Linked DNA regions of Homo sapiens. The protein of the gene in region 3 purifies or fractionates together with the protein of the main gene of each other region. This does not show direct contact. Each region holds a gene or a part of one and is shown on either strand. Other genes may lie near its edges.

Evidence for each region.
Region 1: the proteins of RAB40B (region 3) and ARHGAP29 purify together in Homo sapiens (affinity purification with mass spectrometry, with the first as the bait; one study listed by BioGRID). This does not show direct contact.
Region 2: the proteins of RAB40B (region 3) and ARHGEF26 purify together in Homo sapiens (affinity purification with mass spectrometry, with the first as the bait; one study listed by BioGRID). This does not show direct contact.

Annotation. Positions count from the first base shown.
Region 1 is NC_000001.11:94,174,982-94,178,713, forward strand, and holds part of ARHGAP29 (rho GTPase-activating protein 29), read right to left. Parts: intron 3,187-3,732; coding exon 2,871-3,186; intron 2,740-2,870; coding exon 2,631-2,739; intron 1-2,630. UniProt on the Homo sapiens protein: GTPase activator for the Rho-type GTPases by converting them to an inactive GDP-bound state. Has strong activity toward RHOA, and weaker activity toward RAC1 and CDC42. May act as a specific effector of RAP2A to regulate Rho.
Region 2 is NC_000003.12:154,236,390-154,239,889, reverse strand, and holds part of ARHGEF26 (rho guanine nucleotide exchange factor 26), read right to left. Parts: intron 1-3,500. UniProt on the Homo sapiens protein: Activates RhoG GTPase by promoting the exchange of GDP by GTP. Required for the formation of membrane ruffles during macropinocytosis. Required for the formation of cup-like structures during trans-endothelial migration of leukocytes.
Region 3 is NC_000017.11:82,654,259-82,657,603, forward strand, and holds the end of RAB40B (ras-related protein Rab-40B), read right to left. Parts: 3' UTR 715-3,345; downstream 1-714. UniProt on the Homo sapiens protein: RAB40B small GTPase acts as substrate-recognition components of the ECS(RAB40B) E3 ubiquitin ligase complex which mediates the ubiquitination of target proteins.

The DNA.
Region 1 (3,732 bases), on a different chromosome or scaffold from region 3:
ACACAAAAAAAACACTTGCTGAGTAACTTCTTTTTAAGTGCTGTGCATGAACAAGTACTTTCTGGGTCAAAAGACTATCACAATTTCAATAGGCAGACATTGGAAAATTAACCTCAGAAAAGTGACACTAATTTACACACCAACCAGATGTAAGTGTGCCCTGAATCCCAAGGATTTTGCCAACTCACTCAATCTGCTTTTCAGTTACACTCAACCCAGTGAGAGCATATGATATTAGATGCCTTAGATGCTCTCCATATCTGATCAACTAATAAAGCATAAAATCCATTCTGTCAAATGAAGGCTGAATGCTTTTAAGTTAAAAAGTGCCATTTTCCCCACCTGCTCCCGGATTTTCTTTCTATAGTCCGAACCCACAGTCCATGTTTTCTCACTTAGAAGCCTCAGTTCCTGCATCTATCCTAAAAAATTCCAATTCCAGGAATGTTCCAGCCCTCCATTCTCCTGCTTTTCTGTTCACTGCTGAAACACATCCACCAACTCTGTGCCTTGACGCCATCCTGACTTTAAGCTACAGTCGGCCCCAAGCACAGCATGCAATCCTTTCTCTGCCACCCAGTCCTTCACCCACATCTCTTAGGCAGTGGTTTGCAGACAGGTGCCCACCAGAGTCACTTTTTGGTCATCGTCTCATCTGAACTTCTTCCACACCTGGGACTGCTGGCCTCTCTTCCCTGGGTTCCAAGGCTCTTTTATTGTTTTGTTTTGTTTTTGTTTTTTGAGACAGAGTCTCACTCTGTCACCCAGGCTGGAGTGCAGTGGCATTATCTTGGCTCACTGCAACCTCTGCCTCCTGGGTTCAGGTGATTCTCTTGCCTCACCCTCCTGAGTAGCTGAGATTACAGGTGCCTGCTACCATGCCCAGATAATTTTTGTATTTTTAATAGAGACAGGGTTTCACCATGTTGGCCAGGCTGGTCCTGAACTCCTGGCTTCAAGATCCGCACACCTCAGACTCCCAAAGTGCCAGGATTACAGGTGTGAGCCACCACACCTGGCCCAAGGCTCTTTTGATTTGCTTTCCCAGGTCCTCCACACATTTATAGAGCATTCTAAGGGACCTGGTTCCTTGCAATTGGACTCTAGGCACCAACATATATTCTTAAATTTCTGAGGGAAAAACTTAGAGCATAATGGAGAAGAGCACAGACTCTGAAGCACAGTTGCCTGGGTCCTGGCTCAGCCCTGCCTGCCACTTCTGCACTGGGCTAGGCAATATCACTGTCCTATGTGTCTTCATCTGCGAAATAAGACTCCTATGTGTATCTATGTTGCTGTGTGATCTAAATGATCTACTAGGAAAAGTGCTTAAAATTATCTTGTATGTAATAAACACTGGAAAGTGACATTTATTATTATTACTGTTCCTAAGAGCTTCATGGGATAGCCACAAAGGTTAGGTTTAGTAATCAGAACTGGGTTCAAATGTATTAAGAGAACAACCTTTGGCATTACTTAGTCTCTTTCAGACGGTTAGTTATGGGTTGAATGAGGATAATGCTATTTACTTTATAGCACAGAACTATTATGAAGATCAAATAGAATCAAACAAATAAGCACAGTGCTTAGCACAGAACAGGCAGGTACCTGGTGAATGTTAGTTCCATTCCTTTTTTTTTTCTTTGAGATGGAGTTTCTCTTGTCACCCTGGCTGGAGTGCAATGGCACGTTCTCGCCTCACTGCAACCTCTGCTTCTCGGGTTCAAGTGATTCTCCTGCCTTAGCCTCCCGAGTAGCTGGGATTACAGGCGCCCACCACCACACCTGGCTAATTTTTTGTACTTTTAGTAGGCGGGGTTTCACCATGTTGGCCAAGCTGGTCTCAAACTCCTGACCTCAGGTGATCTGCCCGCCTTGGCCTCTCAAAGTGCTGGGATTACAGGCGTGAGCCACCATGCCCGGCCCTCCTTTCCTTTTTAGACCCTATGATCACTGATACTTGATTACACATTAAATTTAACATATATGGCTGCAATGTAAAAAACTGGAATTTAGCTATAACAATGTAGAAATGACAATACAAATGGAAGCTTTTCCACCAGCTTAACAACTAGCAATGACAGCAACTAATATTATAAAGAGAAAATAAGTGAATAAAATGATCGCAGTCAAGGAAAGAAAAAAGACATACACATCTCTGTGTTTAATAGGTTAAATGTAGGCCACAGGTAAAAAGCATGTCAAAAAAAAAGTAGGACTCTAAAGTTTTTGAATTTCAGGAGTCTAGTTGACTCTGTATGAGCAGTTAGCTCAATGCACTGAACTACGGAACTGGAAGATACTAACGAATATCACATTGCTCAACACATTTCTACCTTGATTTTAGCTGATGGCAAAACTCAAAAACAAAAACAAAATTCAGAAGGAACACAAAAAACATTATAAACTCCAAGATGTCTTATTATAAGAAAGACTTTTATGAAGAATGACATTCATTTAAATGCAAGATACACTAAAAGGCAACTTTCTCAATGGCTAGCCAAGATTTGTTAACTAATAAAGCTTCATTCTCTGGCTTCCCTCATTGCCCCTCACCTTGGTTTTAATCACGGTTCTACTGGTAAAATTTTAAGCCAGCAAACATATTTTTTTTTTACATGGCTACTCACCACTGAGACATGCATCACATTTTCCTAACGCATTTTGCTTGCGTTCTGATTCCTCAAATGATGTAGCTCGTTCAAAAATTTTGCTTTCACTCTCTGAAGTATGGATATCCTGTTGATGCAAGATAATTTTTAAAATGGAAGAAGTAAAACATAACCTCAAAATAAACAGTTCAAAGATCTTTAACTTATTAACATAAATATTACAAAGTTCTAATATAATTCTATAAAGGTCAAACTCACTTCCTTTGAAGAAAAAAATAGTGACTTCATGGAACGTTCAATGTCTCTTTCTTCTGGTGATAACAGAGGCTTTGGAAAACAGCCTTGATCAACAACACCTATGCTACACATAACATCTTGTGGTTGTAGGGACCCATCGAAGATCTTCTGTGAGTAAGTAATGAGAAACTCTACCAAGCGTGCTTGATTTGAATACTCTGCAAGGGAGGAGATGGTGATAGGAGCAGTTGTGGGCCTTGGCCTAATGAGACTTGGTCCAAATATCACCCCCAAGTTTTTGGAGTTCATCTTGTTTTCTTCTGCATGATCTACTACCCTGCAAAGTAGAACACATAAAGTTGTATGAGATTTTCCTATTAGAGTTCCTTGACTGTAGTTTACTATGGAATAGAGAGGGTGGAGGGAAAATGAGCTGCACAAAAATACTAGGGGGAAAAAGTCTAGGAAAAGGTTATATTTATTTGATTAAAATATTGACCACATGCCAAATAGAGTTTCACAGTTTCACAGTATTGGAATAAATTTCAAGTTAAGTAGAAGGAACTACTATAGTTTTACCAGCAGAAAGAAAAAATACCCCTAAAAACTGCTCCCATCTCAGTATATGGTATATCCTCCCAAGTCCTTATACTGGGAACTTAAACATCATTGTCAGGTGTCTCACTACCCATCTCCAAGTCTAGATGATTCTCCCTTCTGAAGATCTCAGTTCCAACACCATTCCCACTCCTCTGGCCTCACTTCAAGCTCTTACCACCTTTTATTTCTATGATTATTCAAGGAGATCTGAATTGTAATAAAGGCCTCCTCTCCAACTTAGTTTCCATATTGCTGCCAGAAATATCTAAAAGGCAAATCTGAG
Region 2 (3,500 bases), on a different chromosome or scaffold from region 3:
AACCCATCCTTGTGTCCCACACTCAGAGCCTCACCACCTGTTTCACAAACCACCAGGACTAATCTCATTATGCCCTCCATTCCTGCTTAGGCTCAGGAACCCCAATATCCTTCTTTCTCCTGCACTCCCATTCCCATCGCACTGTGAACATGCCCAATCTGGCCCCACTTTTTTCCACTCCTCAGCTGGTTCCTGAACCCCTTCCACTGTACCCTCTGGGAATGCAATTCCCTCATTTAAGAAACTAGTAAAGTCTTCTAAATACTTGGCCTCGTCTCTGAACCCTCCCTTCACATTCTTGCCTTAAAAGAAACCTGGCTCTCCCTAGAGAACAAGGCGTCTCCTGAGAGCTCTCTGCCTGCTTGCTTTTTATTCCTGCTTCTATACAATGATCACTTCCTCCTCCTGAAACATCATCAGCTTTGAAGCTCATGGCATCAGTCTCTAACTCATAACTACAGTCATCTATAGACCCCTGGATCGTTTCCGATCCTCTCCCTTGAGTTTCACTGCTGGCTCTCTGTCTCTCTCCAACAATACTTCTTCATACACACACACACACACACACACACACACACACACACACACACTCTCTCTCTCTCTCTCTCTCTCTCTCTCTCTCTCTCTCCCTCTCTCTCTCGGTCATTTACATCAAGTCCCCAACACTACTTCTTTCTTGAAGTCTCCTGTAAAGGATCTTTCCATTACCCTGTACCCTCAATTCCCCGACTTTACTCTCCTCCGATGATCTTGTTTTCTGCCCTACTTCAGCCACAAATCCATGGTTATACCTTAGTCCTTGTCATTACCATCAACTACAAACTCTCTGTAATCCCAGTGTCAAACATACCACTCTCTAACCAGCATGGCCTTTCTTTCCAACTCACCTCCTCTAATCCTCAACACCAACCATTATTTAACTCACCAGTTCTTACAACCCATTGACTCTACAACCTTCCGCCTCCCCCCCTTAATTCCCTCATGTCCTCTTGTTCATGCATATTAAATTAGCTAGCTTGCATTTCTTGGTACCCAGTTAAATCACATCTTGCATACACATTCATCTCCTTGATTGTATTTGCCTGGCAAATCCCGAACCTGGTGACATACAGCTTTTCCTCTACTCTGCACCTGCACCCTTGCGAGTGAACATGAGAGTGCTCAATAAATAACTGTCACATAAGTGGATGAATATGCAATAAATTCTAATATACGCTAGGAATATCGAATAATTACCTCATTTAATAATAAATGCAAATGAATGATGTCAGGGGAGCTTAGAGAAAAGAAAACTCCTTGTGCCTAGTCCAGTACACTAGGAGGAATTTCAGAACAGGCCACTTTGCTCAAGATTTCCTGGAATTTATTTTCCTCAGAATGGACATCTACCTGTCAACCACTCTTTTGTCATGCTCCTTGAAAAACTTTATAATCTTTTCTAAAATTTGGTTTGATAGATTCTGCCCTCAAAAAACAGCAAATGCAGTTATCTATAAAAGCAAAATATTGCCTTCTGATCAAGCCTAATTGTTCCTAGGATAGTAATCTGTATTAATTAAAAGATTGTGTGGCACGATTATCTCCAAAGTTCTCCTGAGACTGCCTACAGACCAGCACACCCACACTTGGATATGTCAAATATTTCTCACATCCAAAATGAGACTTATCAAAGTAGACATGATGTTTATAAAAAGAGGAAGGTGAATAATACGCTTTACAAACAAATACGGTCATTTTTTAAAAGACTATGTTTACTAGAAACAAAGCAGTCAATTTTTAGCAACACAGAACAAGTTTATCATGTTGTATAGATACTATATCAGACATGCATTGAACAGCATAGGACTCAGGATAAAAACCAAAACCAGGATAAAACAGCAAACATAACAAAACCTCAACAACAACAGCATCAAAAACAAGAGAAAAAGAGGATGAACTGAGGCTTCTTTGTTACTATTTTCTCTCTGCCCCTTATGATTACTCTTTTGGTCCAATTTACAAGTTAAAAAACCTGTTAGTCAAAGGCACCTGTTTCTGTTTAAAAACAATTCTGCTTCAGAAAGAGAAATGGAAGCAACCTAATATTGTGAACATGGGGTAAGGCCCTAAACAATGACATGTGTGTAGGCGTTGTAGGTATTTCCAAAGAAATAAAAGTCAAAGAAATGAATATGCTATAAAGTCATCATTTGAGATGACTCAAATTCGAAAATGTTGTCAACATAAAGTGGTTTCACCTATCAAGTCATCCCAATAGAATTCAAAACCAAGGGTTCACAGAAAATGAATATAAGCTAATATGAATAAACTAGTTAAGTGTGTGTGTGTGTGTGTGTGTGTGTGTGTGTGTGACGGAGTCTCACTCTGTCACCCAGGCTGGAGTGCAGTGGTGCACTCTCAGCTCACTGCAACCTCCGCCTGCCAGGTTTAAGTGATTCTCCTGCCTCAGCCTCCCGTGTAGCTGGGATTACAGGCATGCACCACCATGCCTGGTTAATTTTTGTATTTTTAGTAGAGACAGGGTTTCACCATGTTGGCCATGCTGGTCTGGAACTCTTGACCTCAAGTAATCGGCCTCCCAAAGTGCTGGGATTACAGGCCTGATCCACCACACCCAGCCAGCTTCTTTTTCAATTTTCAGTCATAAATGCTTTAATTTCTTGTCTTTGGGGGATAAAGACAGAAGTAGATACTTTTTTAAAATGTTTATTAATTGTTCTCTTAAGCAATGACAACTACAATGCCACTGATTAAGACCCAGGATGGCTGCTGGGCTCAGTTTATGCCTGTAGTCCTCTCAAATGTCCAGTTTGAATGATAAACTGTGGCTGCCCTAATCACAGCTATATGATTTCACCTCAAGTGTTTATTTCCACACATCTGCATAGTTGTGTCATTGAATATGCCTGAACAAGGAACTTGGCCCACTGGACTTCTGGGTCCAAAACAAAATGCAGGAAACATGTTGGCCTTTTTGTTTGTTTTTAAAGTAATTTACTATCACCCAATATCCAATATCATTACTTCGTCTAGGCCAGTAAACTTCTGCATTATGCAATAAATAATGTAGGTCTTTACACCTTCCTTACTGCTCTTTTAGGAAATCTACTATAAAAAGAAACAATTCCATTTAACAGTAGTGCTTCAGTAGAAAGAGGAGCAGAAACTCTATAGCCAGGTGCAGCTGTTTAAAGCCCGTTTCCCATCTCTGCTTATTTACCCCATGTCCAATAAGTATGGAGCAGGCTAAACAGGGTTGGGAAAGAAACCCCCTTCCTGAGGGAAGCTGATGCTAATCAGACTTCCCCATGTTTGTCTCTATCGTTTAACAAACATATGGTTTATATAGTCTCTGAAACAATTTGGAACATGTAATGAGGAAGTTAAAGTGCTCAGAAAAGGGCAAATGGAAAAACCATCTTTCCTTGCATGGAGAAGTTTATATGGAGACTTCCTTTGATTGTCTTATATGTGCTCCAAGTTTACCAGCTGCTCATCAA
Region 3 (3,345 bases):
CCTCTCGATGGTCGGAGGCTTGGTGCTGCAGCAAGTCAGGGGCGTTCACGGTGGCCTTTGGCTAACAGCCTTGACAGCACCTCTGGGCTGCTGGGAAGTAGCCGGTCACCTCACCTAGAAGAGGGTGAAGGCTGGAGCAACAGAACTGCTTTGGGACTAGGTGGAGTTTGGAATCCCTCTCCACAGTGGCTCAGGGCCTCTGTGCTCCAGCGGGGTTTGCTGTCATCATGGGAATGTAGAGGAGAAAAACCAGTATCAGCTCGAGTTCAGCACTGCGGCAGGGTAGGGACAGTGGTTTTATTTTTATTTGAGATGGAGCCTCACTCTGTCACTCAGGCTGGAGTGCAGTGGTGCAATCTCAGCTGACTGCAACCTCCACCTCCCAGGTCCAAGCAATTTTCATGCCTCAGCCTCCTTAGTAGCTGGGACTATAGACGTGCACCACCATGCCCGGCTAGTGGTTTGTATTTTTAGTAGAGACGGGGTTTCATCATGTTGCCCAGGCTGGTCTTGAACTCCTAAGCTCAGGCAATCCGCCTGCCTCAGCCTCCCAAAGTGTTAGGATTACAGACATGAGCCACCGCGCCCTGCCAGGACAGTGGTTTTAAAAGGCAGGTGCCAGCCTTTCTTAAGAGAAGAAAGTGTGTAAGAATCTGTAGATCTAAAGCAACAGGCCACACCTCTGAACATGACAAGAAAATGACAAAGTTTCTCTAAGGTTTAATTTATATTTATGTTTTTTGTATATTCACCACCCAAACACACAGTCTTCTACTTAGTCCGGTCTGTATTAGGTTTCGTCTGTTTTTGTTCTGCCTTGGTTTGCTGTAGCACTTTCTGCCGTGAGCGTAACTCACTTCCTTGTAGGAGTTTCCTGAGGCTGCCGTAACAATCGCCACAAACCTGGTGACTTAAATAACAAATATTTATTTTCTCGTAGCTCTGGAAGCCGGAAGTCCAAAACCAATAACTTGGCAGGGCTGTGCTCCCTCTGGGAGATCTCGGGGAGCCTCCTTGCTACATGTTCCGCTTCTGGGGACTTCTGGTGGTGTTTCCCTGGAGGGCCAAGGCCTCCGGGCGGCCCGTGCATTCGGTGAACACCTCCAAAGAGCTCTGAGTCACAAAGCCTTGGGAAACTTTATTTTATTCTTTCTAGGACATTATCAGTAGTCCCGAGGAGACATCAATTACAAAACAAGAAAAAGGAAGGAAGAGAAAAATACAGGTTTGGCCTGGTTTAATGTTGCAATGGGAGGATCCATTTCCTTACCCTTCACCATCAGCGAGCTGGGAACGGAGGGAGAAGAGGCCCCTCAACGTGGGTTTCTTCAACGTGGACTCTCCTTTCTGTGCATCTCAGTGTCCTTGTGTTTGCAGCTGGGAGGTCGGCCCTGTCGTTCTCACCCCACCTGTGGCACAGCAGAGAGAAGGGTGCACAGGTCTTTGCAGCGTGCCTGCACGAGGCTGGCCACCCTCTCCAGACACTGTCCCCTCAGGGTTCACCTTCTGCCCACAGACCACACCCCTGCCTCCCCGTGGACTTTGTCCCCGTGGCTGCCGTGCCCAGGTGGCCAGACACCCCCAAGCCTGGGTCCACCCGCAGGGACCAGTGCTCCTCTCTCCTGTCTGGGCCTCGGTTCCACCATCTCTGAATACAGGCTTTGCCCCTGATTCTAGGGTCCCTTAAATTTCTTTTTTTTTTTTTTTTTTAGATGGAGTTTCACTTGTCGCCCAGGCTGGGGTGCAGTGGTACGATCTCGGCTCACTGCAACCCCTGCCTCCCAGGTTCAAGTGATTCTCCTGCTTCAGCCTCCTGAGTAGCTGGGATTACAGGTGTGCGCTGCCATGCCAAGCCAATTTTTGTAATTTTATTAGAGACGGGGTTTCATCACGTTGGCCAGACTGGTCTTGAACTCCTGACCTCTGATCCGGCTGCCTCGGCCTCCTGAAGTGCTGGGATTACAGGTGTGAGCCATCACACCCAGCTGGGTCCCTTAAGTTTCTAAGAATCTACAGATCATCAGCAGGAACTAGGAACATCTGGGTATTTTCTCGCTTCGTTTTTTTGGTTTAGTCCCTCATTTGCGACCCCCAGCCACAGAGAAACGTTCAACAGTGTGACCAGGGAAGAGAGCGGCCCTGGAGGTCTTTGCGGTCAGCCCTGCTCTGAGGCAGTCGGGGTCAGGGGCTACATCTTCATGCGGAATTCCTGACAGCCCCTCGGAGCTCCTCACCGAGGCTCAGGAGCACGGCTCTGATTTCTCAGACAGGCACATGCCTGGGTGCCAGCTTTTAACTCTCCGCTCTCTCCTCCTCTGCACTTCTGTTCCGGAAAAGGAATCCTTTCTCAACAGGCGACAACAGTTCAAGGATTCAGCCTTGTTGCCAGTGTCGTGTATTAGCTCCGATATGTGATGTCTACACCAGGCAGTGGCGCAGTGAAGTAAAGGGCTATAAGAAATACACAAAATCTGGCCGGGCGCAGTGGCTCACGCCTGTAATCCCAGCACTTTGGGAGGCCAAGGTGGGTGGATCACCTGAGGTTAGGAGTTCAACACCAGCCTGACCAACATGGTGAAACCCCATCTCTACTAAAAATACAAAAATTAGCCGGGCGTGGTGGTGCACCTCTGTAATCCCAGCTACTCGGGAGGCTGAGGCAGGAGAATCGCTTGAACCCGGGAGGCGGAGGTTGTGGTGAGCCCAGATCGTGCCATTGTACTCCACCCTGGGCAACAAGAGCGAAACTCTGTCTCAAAAATAAATAAATAAATAAATACAAAATTCGAAAGAACCGGTCGCCAACTCTACCAAGAGAGAAACAACTATACATTTTATTGTTGAGAAACATTTTCCTAAATAAGTGTTTTCACTTCATTCTTTACTGAAACAGCTCTTCCTTGACATGTCGAAACTGTGCTGGCTGTGTTCAACATAACTAGAGGTATCTTTGGCATTTTCTTCCCTTAGCTTCATAACTTGTAGAATATCTTGTACAAAAAACTGTAGATTTACAGAAAAATATGCATATAAATCACTTATTAATCCCAAAATGTAGTAAATAACTAGCAAAAACTTTATCAAATCCATTTCATACACAAACTGGACAGATCAGTTGCACATAACCTCTACATCTGCAGCGTTTTATAAATTGGCGCTTTGACATTGAAAAGGAGGTTTACAAAAAGACCCCTCTCGTAATATCAGTGACTCTAAATTATCCCGCTGCCATTGCTTCTCAAATTCCATTGAATTTATACTAATCACTCCAATATCACCGTTCTTACAAAAGCAGTTATTTTAAGGAAAAAGTTGCAGTGCAATCATGATAAAGTAACATTCAGA